Regions from separate parts of the Homo sapiens genome. Here region 1 is linked to region 2. Evidence: fine-mapped expression QTL. A gene starts in region 2. The other region holds a variant in brackets. All regions are shown on one strand. Distances are from middle to middle. Region 1 holds the start of CCDC166 (coiled-coil domain containing 166). Region 2 holds the start of IQANK1 (IQ motif and ankyrin repeat containing 1).

Evidence for each region. PIP is the estimated chance that this variant, and not a neighbour inherited with it, causes the effect. A credible set is the group of variants that fine-mapping cannot tell apart.
Region 1: its variant is the best candidate, but not a certain one, in a credible set for the expression of IQANK1 in cerebellar hemisphere (GTEx, PIP 0.58).

Annotation. Positions count from the first base shown.
Region 1 is chr8:143,706,612-143,711,968 of GRCh38, forward strand. CCDC166 (coiled-coil domain containing 166) reads right to left here and starts at 1,498. Exons shown (of 2, transcript NM_001162914.1): 1 at 1,055-1,498; 2 at 83-958. The coding sequence starts at 1,498. The coding sequence ends at 83. It overlaps LOC101928160 (a long non-coding RNA gene), which reads left to right and starts at 1,440. Exons shown (of 6, transcript NR_134306.1): 1 at 1,440-1,525; 2 at 2,642-2,697; 3 at 4,137-4,204. The variant A/G (reference allele first, on the strand shown) is at 2,216.
Region 2 is chr8:143,731,274-143,736,630 of GRCh38, forward strand. It overlaps IQANK1 (IQ motif and ankyrin repeat containing 1), which reads left to right and starts at 2,866. Exons shown (of 14, transcript NM_001381874.1): 1 at 2,866-2,946; 2 at 4,577-4,665. The coding sequence starts at 4,581. FAM83H (family with sequence similarity 83 member H) reads right to left here and starts at 2,506. Exons shown (of 5, transcript NM_198488.5): 1 at 2,418-2,506. It overlaps MIR4664 (microRNA 4664), which reads right to left and starts at 1,880; the gene lies at 1,810-1,880. RefSeq lists a silencer at 1,359-1,569 and an enhancer at 1,446-1,740.

The DNA of each region.
Region 1 (5,357 bases), 25 kb before region 2:
TAACCATTGCATTATCCCCGTAAGCGCCCTGCGCGCCTGACTCGCCCACACTAGGGCCTCCTGGGCCTCACTCTCTGCAGGTTCAGGCTCTACCCGGGGAGGCTTCTGCCGCAGCTTCAGCGTTCACGCTGTCCTCCGACTGTGGGGGGAGAAGAGCCGGATCCCGATCCCGGGACAGGCCAGAGAGAAGCTTGGGGCCAGACTTCGTGGAGCGGAGAGTGTCCTGTGAGGACACCCTCGGTGAGGACCCCGAAGAGATCCCAGAGCCCTCGAGTGACTGCACCAGCGACAGGGCCCGGGAGCCTGCGCGCGAAGCGGTCAGGGATGGCATCCGGGATCCCACCTTTGAAGTGGCCAGCGATGGGACCCTGGAGTCCATGCTCGATAGCACCAACGAGGGGACCCGGGAAGCCTCGCGCGACGGGACCACGGACGAGGCCCGGGGGGCCGCGCGCGACGGTACCACAGACGGGGTCTGGGAGGCCGCGCGCGACGGGCTTATGGGGGCGGCTAATGACCCGGGGCGCGAGGTGGGCTGGGAGAAGGCCGGCCGCTCCCAGAGCGGCGGGCCTCCGGGGCCCCTGCGCAGCCAGCCGTGCACACGCGCCAGGTCCCGCGTGTCCTCGTGCTCGCGGTGCAGTTGCTCGCGCTGTTCCAGCAGCTGGCGCCGCGTGTGGTGCAGCAGCTGGGTCCGGCGGAGCAGCAGCAGCAGCTCCTGCCGCAGGCGTCCGTTGTCCGCTTTGATGGCCTGCGTGTGCGCCACAAGCGCGCGCACCGCCTCCCGCTCCGCGCGCCGCGCCAGTGACTGCACGCGCTGACGCGCCTCGCGCTCGAAGGCCGCCTTGTCCTCCAGGAAGCGCCGCTTCACGCGGTGGAGCAGCTGCGTGTGCTCCACGCGCATATGCAGCAGCTCGCGCTCCAGCGCCCGGATCCGGGCCAGCTGCTCCAGCTGCAGCACCTGCGGCGGGGGCGCCGTCAGCTCACCCCCACCCCGCCCCCGGCCCGGCCACCAGCCCCGCCCCGCCTCACCCCGGCCGCGGGCGGGCTCACTGGCCTTGTAGGGCTGCAGCTCTTGCACCTGCTGTGCCATCTGTGCCGCGCGCGCCTCCATCTCCAACAGCTGCGCGCGCACCCCGTCCTCGCGCCCGTGGTAGAGCGAGGCCAGTTCCGCCCGCTGCCAGTGGATCTGCGCTAGGTCCACGCGGTTCTGCTCGTCCAGCCGGACGATGGCTTTGGCGCAGCGCTGGGCGCGCGCGCTCACGTAGCTGGCGTAGAGCCGGTTCTCCTCGCGCAGGCGCAGCGCCTCGCGGTCCAGGAAGGCGTTCTCTCGCAGCACCTGGTCAACGCTCTCCTCGCAGGTGTCCAGCTGCTCCGAGAGCAGCGCGTGTTCGCGTTGCAGGTACTGCGCGCGCTCCGATAGCGGCTGCTCGGCACCCGCGGCCGCCGCACCACCTGGCTGGCTCCCTGCGCTCGGCCCGCGCTTTTTCTTGGGCGCCATGGGTTGGTGCCTGGACCACCAGGACTGGTGAGGGCAGCGACCCCGGCCCCTTCCCCAATTTAGCCCTTCCTCTTACCTGGCCTAAATATTCTAGGCGCCAGGCCCAGAGGTGGGACGCGCCTCGGGGTCACGAGGCTTTTGGGGAGGCAGATCGGGGCTTTGGGTCGCGGGTCAGGGCAGCTTTGCCAACCTTCACTCGTGGGCTCCCGCTGGACCTTCGCTGTCCGTCTGGGTGCGCCTAACATTAGTAATGTTGCTGCTCGGCGGGCACGGTCTCTATGGAGACAGAACTTACTCGTCCTCTCCCACCCCCACCCCGTTACTCTGGCGATGGCCGACTCCTTCATTCCGCACAACTCTCTCATCTTGAGTCGCCCGTGACTGCTTGTGAATGTGCCCCCAGAGATAGGGCCTGAGCTGACAAAACTGGGCTTCAGACGGACTCCGGACGTGCTTCTGAATCTCACAGACCCCAGAAGCGCCCTTCGCCTTCGGTTCAGCAACGGGCCTTCTCCCGGGTTGTCCCCCACTTGAAGAGGAGCTTCACCACGTTCCCCCCCGTTTCCCGAGTGAAATCTCTGTGTTGTCAGGAGGGAGCGCTTCCCTGGAGCATTCGCCTCTTCAGGGACCCTTGCTTTCCCTGAGCATTTCGTGATTCCTTCGGTGAGGCCCCCGTGGGAATTGGGGTTCCTGAAGTATGGAGTCCACTGGGCGCCT[A/G]GAGAGCGTTTCTCTCTGAAGGTCCTAAGCGCGCGCGTGCGGCACCCGCTCAGCTCATCCGCGGCTCTGCAGCTGGGTAGCTTCCCTTCCCCGTGTGCCCGGATGGCTGGAGGACATAGGGATCCAAAAAGGGCTGGCTTTTTCTCCTTTTCTGTTGACTTTGTGGACACAACATCATTATTGAAACCATTCCTATAGACTTTATTAATCAGGGAAGAAGGGAGGCGAGAAAGGAAAACAAACCCAGCTTGCAGCTCGCTCAGCATTCATTGTGAGGTCAGCCTGCCTCCCAACTCCTTCCTCAGAGCTGTTTGGTGCCTGTGGCCCCAGAATCACACAGACCCTGTCACAAGATGAGAGGTCCCCATAACTGCTCTATAGGTAACAACTTAAACATAGTAAAATGTGAGGTTTTCTATTTGACAGGTCCTGCACACCCATGAAGCGACTGACCCAGCTGGTCTGAAGCACCCCACGAGGAGGTAATGTGCCAAAGAACGCAGGGTACACATCCTGAGGACTTCATCCCCTTTCCCCGGCCAATTGATGACCCCATTTTACAGTCCGTCACCCGCCACAATCCCTTTAAAAACCCCAGCCCAGAACTCAGGGAGATGGATTTGAAGGTCCCTCCCATCTCCTTGCTCGGTGTCCGGGGATCATGACACTTTCTCTGCTGCAAACTCTGCTGTCTTGATGTATTGGTCATTACTGCACAGCAGGCATCACCACCTGTTGGTCCTGTAAGATTTGCCTCCGTCTAGACCAGCGGTCCCCAGCTCCCGTTCTGTTAGATGCCTCAGGAACAGTGTGTCCAGCAGCCTTTGACACACAACTTAAATCGACCCCTATTTTGTGTTCTGTCATCATAGAGTTGAGTTTCTGCCCAGTTTGTCCACATTTGCTGGGATGTGGGCAGATTTGAGGATCTTTGTGAGGGACACAGTTTAGAAAACCACATTTGCACAGAGGTTTGTGGTGGAGGTCGTCTGGTGGCTCATGGACATGGCTGGGCTTGCTCTGATCAGCCAACCTGCCTGAAAGGTGCAGCAGAGCCTTTTAAAATTAAGAACACGATTGAGGCATTTTACTCCTTGTAAAAAAATGTATTTTAGGCTGGGCGCAGTGGCTCACACCTGTAATCCCAGCACTTTGGGAGGCTGAGGCAGGCAGATCACGTCAGGAGATCCAGACCATCCTGGCCAACATGATGAAACCCTGTCTCTACTAAAAATACAAAAAATTAGCCAGGCGTGGTGGCAGGTGCCTGTAGTCCCAGCTACTTGGGAGGCTGAGGCAGGAGAACGGCGTGAACCCGAGAGGCGGAGCTTGCAGTGAGCCGAGGTTGCGCCACTGCACTCCAGCCTGGGCGACAGAGCGAGACTCTGTCTCAAAAAAAAAAAAGTATTTTATAAGTAAAAATAAGAGGACACAAACTACCAAACAAAGCATTAACATTGTAAGAGGACATTGACTTATAAACTAAACTGCATCTGAATGTTGGCTTTAATATATGGGCTTTTAATATGAAAATGGTGCCTCTCCTGTCACAGAAAATTGGGAAAAGACCACATAGAATCATGAGAAAAACATGACCCTGCATCCCTGCATCCCTGCAGCAGGGGCTCAACTGCAGCAGGGACTCATCTGGGGTGGGGGGCAGGCTCATGTGTAGGGGTGCTTAATGCCCAGCGTTGCCTCTTCTGGTTCCTTGCCATGGCCACACCCCAGTGCTCTCCACCCTGCTACCCTCAGGCCTTGTGTGGGGTCACTGTCCCCATTTGACAGATTGAGAAACTGAGGCAGCAATAGGCAGAGGCCTGCTCACATGGGCCAGTCGGGTGCCCCACAGTCTCAGACCCTGTACCATCCCAGGCCACGCCACGTCCAGGGTCTGGACTGCTCTTTCCCCTACTCCCAGCCCCACTGCACCCGCGCATCTGCCACTGGAGGGTCTCGGTTGCTCTTGGCCTTTAAATCCCTGGTGAGGTAAGGTTTTTAAGTTTTAAGTCATCCCTGCCTGTGGGTTTCTTGATTTTTCTTTGCTTTAAATCTCACCAATGCCTCCTCACAGAGAGATCTGGGAGCCTCCTGCTCTCCTCTGTCGAGGCGTCCTGGAGGCTTTCTTCTTCCCAATTCTGCAATTCCCACTTCTGCAACCCCTGCCTCACCCACCAACTCCATGGAATAGTTGGGGGAGCCCCGACCGCAGCCCTAGTCTAGTGCGGACACTCCTGTCCCTGCAACCACACCCCCACCCCCCCAGGCCTCTGCCCAGCCCAGCGCTTTAACTTCTGCCCTGACCCGGGTCTGGCTGCCAGCTGCCCAGCTGTGCCTCTGACCAACAGGGATGAGGGGCAGGAGGAGACCTGGTTTCTGCTGGGGGGCCACGCTGCATGGGGCGATTCTTTGCGGGGAAGTGGGGAGAGCCTGGCCTTGGGGGCGGGCTCAGATGCCTCCCCAGGATCCCCCAGGCTTTTCTCTCATTGTGTTAGGAAGGCAGGCGGTCTCTGGGGTTCACCAGGTCCTGCACCATCCATGGGGACAGAACTCACTTCCTGTGACACACCTCCCACCCTCGGGGGTCTTCCCCCGAGGCCATGCAGGCCTCCTCAAGTGGCATGGTGGTCTTTGTCCCCCCAGGACCTGCAGTCTCACCCCCCTCAGATACAGGCTGGCAAACTGGAAAGGCCCTGGGAAGAGGGGCACTGTCTGCTCCCTGTGAGGCCCTCCCCGTCCACAGCTGGGCCAGCCTCCCTCCTTTCACCGCCCTCCCCACAGCCCCGAAGCCGGGCCAGCTTCCGTCCTCCCCACCACAGCTGGGCCAGCCTCCCTCGTTTCACCGCCTGCCCCACCGCCCCAAAGCCGGGCCAGCCTCCCTCCTCCCCACCACAGCTGGGCCAGCCTCCTCCGGACCCTCACCACAGCCAGGCCAGCCTCCCTTCCCACCCCTCCGCAGCCAGGCCAGCCTCCCTCCTGCCCCCCAGCCCCTTATGCTGGGCCCTGCTGGGGACCCTGAAGGCTGCAGCACAGGGCCACCTTGGGTCTGCTCCTGGGGCTTGTGGGCTCCCACAGGCTCCCCAGGTGGCCCCGCCCACCGTGCCCCTGTCTTCCCGCCCCTACTGCTTTGCATGTCCTGCCT
Region 2 (5,357 bases):
GTGTCCGTCTCTGACTGCCTGGGAGACTGTGGGTAGGTCACTGCACCTCTCTGGCCTACCTCTACTGCACAACACAGCTGAGGGTCCACATGACACCACGCCTAGCCCAAGGTGAGCGCAGCAAACAGGGCTGTGACTACCCTCCTCCTGGAATGGCAACCTTAAGCCCCACACATAGTCCCGGGCCACACCTCCTCCCCATCCTCAGGGTTTCACAATTGGGCTCCCACAGCCCATTCTATGACCGCCCAGTCCTGGAACACTGATCCCTAGACTCCGTCCCTGTCTCCCAGCACCCCCTCCTTCCCTTGGCCTACCTTTGACCTCTTTCTTGTCACTGTCCCTCTCAGATAAAACCTCCCTGGGCCACAGCCCCTTGGTGCCCACAGGGCCCTGCAGGGCCTGCACTCCACATCGCCCAAATCTGGCTCTCCACTTGCTCAGAGTCCTGTCCCCACCAGCCCCCATCCAGGGCAGCAGGGACCTTTCCAGGTCCTGGGCTCGCCACCACCATCCATGCTTGGCTGCCCCACAGCCCACTCTGTTCTCCAAAGGGTCCCTGCGGGGGCCTGGCCTCTCCAGAAAGGTGTCAGATGGGGAGCGCCCAGGGCCCACGCACACAGGGTCACTGAGCTACCTGGGTACCTCTCCCTGGAAGGAGAGCCCTAGGGACTGCTCAGTCCATCCCACTGCTCCTCGGGTTGGGGAGGGAGGCAGGACACCTGTCCCCGCCTAGCACACAGGTTCCTGAATGTTGGCCCTGGCTAGGAAGGTGCCCAGAGGAGCGTGCCCCTGGGCGCTGACAGGATGGATGCCGGCCAGCTGGACTACATGGGTGCTAGCCGGAGCCACTTGGCTGAGAATGTTGGGGTCAGGAGGCAGCCGTCCTGCCTGGTGCCCCTGGGGGTGACATGGAGTTGAGACATGGGAAATACCTGGTGCCACTCAACAGCCCTAGATGCCAACCGGCTTGGGAGAAGCTGTCCCAACATTTCTTTGTTGGGGCACCGTCCTCATGGTTGACATATGGGGCTGGTTAGGGCACACCGCTCTGGTTGTGCCAGGGGCAGATCGAGGCCAACCACATGGGGGTGAGGTGTAGGCCTGTCTGGCTGGGCCGAGGAGCCCACTCACCATTGCCAGCCTGTCTGTAGGGGCGGTGTCTGACCATACAGGGCAGGGGGAACAACCCTGCTGATGTTGTTTGAGGGTACTTCCCGACACTGGGGGGACACTCTAGAAAGGACCCCCACTGTCCCTTTGGATTTCAGTGTCCAGGCTCCAGGCTGTGTGTAATGGGGGCAGGGACCATCCAGACAGTGGAAGCCCCCGTGGCCAGGAGCCCTCCCAGCAGACATGCCTCGTCCTCACAGGGTGATGCCCAGACCTCCAACTGCTTCATTCCTCACGTCGTCTCCTTTCATGGGTACGTGTCTCCTGGGCTATGGACGGGGCTGCAGCCACTCCCGAGCCCAAGATGGAGCACCCCAGTGGCCTGCATGCCCACACATTTGCCTACCAAACGTCTGCCCAAGGGAGGGAGGGCGCGGAACCCACCCATGGGCAATGACTCAGCACGAATCCACTCTTCTGCTTGCTGACCCCTGACCTCTGACTCGAAGTCAGGGCCCTCAGCTGGCCTTCAAGGACCCCATCCTCTCCACCCTGGCAGGAAGTGGGGTTCCTGAGTATCTGGAAGGAGGACCCCATGGAAGGATCTGGAGTTCCTACACAAAGTGGGGTGAACCTGTGCCAAGTTCCGATGGGCGCAGGAGGGCGCGGAGGCTCTAGGCGGCGGAAAGGTGGGGTGCGGAGGACGGGGCTCACAGACCGGAAGTCGCTCAGTGATAACTTGCGGAGTGGGCACCCCAGCCCCCAACGGGGTCAGTGCACCCTACGAGCTCGCGGCTGCGGCCGCTGGGTGCCCTATCCGCCCACCCCAGCCCAGGAACGTGGGCGCGAGGGGCAGCACTCCCATCACTCGCCCTGCTCGCCACGCGGGGATCCAGGCCGCACCCTGGCCACCCCAGTCCACGGCGGCCCGGGCGGATGTCCCCAGGGAAGGGTCCAGGCCGTGCCCAGCACCCAGACTCCAGCTAGGCCGCGAGGGCGGGAGCGAGTCGGGACGGCCGGGCAGGCTCGACCCGGATCCCGGGCCCCTTCCCCCTCGGCTCTTTTCGGGCCGGCGTCGTGCGGGGGCGCTCGCGTCCATATCCGCACAGCGGCGCCCCCTGTCCGAGCAGCCCCGCCACCCCGGCCCCGCGCACGCGGCCGCGCTCCACTCCCACCGCCCCTCTCTGGGTCGCGCGGCCCCGGCCCAGGTGTGGGCGCAAGGGTAGCCCAAGTGGGACCGCGCCAAGGGGCGCCCGCCCCCCGCCTCGCCCCGCCCCGCTCGGGCCGGGGGAGGGGGGCCCTACCTGGCCAGGTGCGCGGGGTCTCGGCACAGGGGCAGCAGGAGCCGACCGCCGCCCAGCGGCCTCGCGGTCCGGTCGGTCCGGCAGCCACTCCCTGCCGCGGCCCGCCCGGCCTGATTCACGCGCCCGCCCCCGCCCCGCCCGTCGCTCCTGCCTCCTGCCTGCCCGGGCAGCACCTGGGGGCGGGGCAGCCCCACCCGCGGCGCGCCCGCATTCCTGCGCCCCGCGCCCGCCGCCAGCCCCAGCCCGCGCCCCCGGCCCGCGCCCCGACCCGCCCGTGCCCTGCGGCCGCGCGCCCGGAGACCCCGGCCCAGCGCCGCCGGAGACCGTGAGGCCCGCACTTCAAAGACCCCGACCCCCGGGAGCCCAACTGTTGACCCAAGGCTCAAAGTTCCCAGCCTGACCCCTGACCCTCGCCCCGGAAGTCGGGGTGACTCGGAAGTTCCGGCTCAGTCGCTAGGAAACGAGCGAGCCCGACGCCAGGGGCGGAGCTCTGGCCTCCTCGCCGAGTTGGGGGAGGCAGGTGCGACAGGTGAGGACGGTGGGGCGGCGTCGAGCCCCGGGCGGGGCCGGGTCTGGGAGCCCCGAGAGCACAGGGGATCCCCTCACCACACACCGGTCTCCCACCGCACCAGCGCCCCACACGTAGACGAGGACCCCGCCCACACAGAGGACCCCCAGACCCCAACCCCCACCACACACACTGATGCCCACAAGTACCTGGGGTCCCCCATCTTTCTCCCTCACCCCCTCACACCGATGCCCACACTTGTAGGGGACTCTGCCGCAGTGACCCCCCCATGCACATGCGGACCCCGAATGACCTGTGCCTCATGTACACCAACCCCCAAGCACAGGAGACTCCTCAGGAAGACAGAAGCCACAAGCACACCGAGTCCTGCCCATGCCAGTCACCCACGAACACGCTGACATCCGCACACCTAGGGAACCCCACCTGCATATGAGATTTCTCAGACACCAACCCCACACACAAACAGGGGATGCCATATTCACACTGACTCTGAGAGCACAGGGGACCTCCCTCACATACGGAACCCTGTGTACACACAGGGACTCTGCAAAAACCAAGCCCCAACGGACAAGGGACCCAGTGTGCACACCAAGCCTCATACCAGACGCCCCCCCATGTACACAGCAACCCCCACACACCACCCCGAGCTGCCCCTGGGTGCTCCAGTCCCCCAGGTCCCCCTCAGGCCCTCACTTAGGGCCCCTCCCCCTCTTAGGCCCTGCCCTACACTGGATCATCTGTCCAAACCACCACCCCTCGCCCCTGCCACTCCCACCCCAAGGACTGGCCCTGCCTCAACCCTTTCTGATGGTCATCAGTCGCCTTTCTCTTTGTTCCTCTTGCCATGTGATCCTATTTTCTGTTTTCAGGGTCAGTCCCAGTTTCATTTGTTCTTTCCCCAAACACTCAGTGCCACCCCACTGGTACCAGCATGCTGGAAACATGGGTGGGGGGTCAGACCAGTGCCCAGGCAACTGTGCTGCAGCGGGTGAGGGGCATGGGGCACCGGGGAGGACCCGGACAGGCTGGGGCAGGCAGGAGGAGCCTCCCAGGGAAATGAACTTGGGGGTCAGCTGTGTGGACTAGGGAGAGGGGTGTTGCTCCAGGGCCTGACACCACCATCTGCCAGAGCCGGGACCACATAAGGTCTGAGGGTGTGGAGGGGTGAGTGCCTTGGGTGGGCTGGGGAGCAGGCTCAGGGGTGGGCTGGCTTCCCAGGGCAGTGGAGAGGCATGGAGGCTTCAGCAGAGAGGGCCATGCTCATGATTACGGTGAGAACAAAGACCGGCCCACTGGCAACCCAGCAGCTTGGGGCAGGGAGAAGAGTGCTAGACTCCAGATCCTGCGCCCGGCAGGATGGGCTGAGCCTGGGGCGGAGGGGCAGGCAAGCCACGGCCAGGGGGACGGGAGGTGGCCAAGTGCTCTTGCCAGGCATCCCGGCTCAAGCTTCTGGGCACACACCCGGGGCGGGCAGGCAGACAGGACACCAGCTGGGAAGCCTCAGGGGAGCCCATGTTCCTGCTGTCATCCACTCAGGCGCCCATGGTGTGCCCTGTTCCCCACTGCCACTGCCCCTGCCCTCTGCCACTCTGAGCACCCTCTCCCTGGTCCTTCCCTACCCACCCCCCAGGAGAATGGACAGTAAGAAGGGGAGACCCAAAGCTGCAGCTGGGAAGTGGCAGACGCTCCACCCTGGGCCCAAGACAAGAGCTGCTGCTGGTAAGTGCACCCTCTGACCTCCAGAGCACTGTCACCCAGACACTGACCTGTGAGACCTTCTATGTAGCCACCGAGAGACACCCCCTCTGAGGAGAGCCCTTCTTCCAAGAGTGGCTTTTAGGGGACCTCTGAGTTGGGATTAGGTGTGATTGACTGAGGGTTCAGAGCCCATTCATTCATCTCAGACCTTGAGCCTGAATCTATTTTTTTTTTTTTTTTTGAGACGGAGTCTCGCTCTTGTCACCCAGTCGAGTGCAATGGCGCAATCCCTCCTCACTGCAACCTCCGCCTCCTGGGTCCAAGTGAGTCTTGTGCTTCAGCCTCCCGAGTAGCTGGGATTATGGACGTGCGCCACCACGCCCTGCTGATTTTTGTATTTTTGTTTTAGTAGAGACGGGGTTTCGCCACATTGACCAGGCTGGTCTTGAATTCCTGACCTCAGGTGATCCGCCCGCCTCGGCCTCTCAAAGTGCTGGGATTACAGGCTTGAGCCACATGCCCGGCCAAGCCTGAATCTTATACCCCTGGGGTTGGGGTGGGGGCCTAGGGGTAGCACTCAGAGAAGCCCAGCTTTGGAACACATGGAGGTGGGAAGGGGGCAGGAGCCAGTGGGAGGCGCCTAGATGGCCAAAAATGGGTTTTGAAACAGGAGGGTTTGAGTCCAAGTTGGGGATTCTCAGTCTAAGCATGTG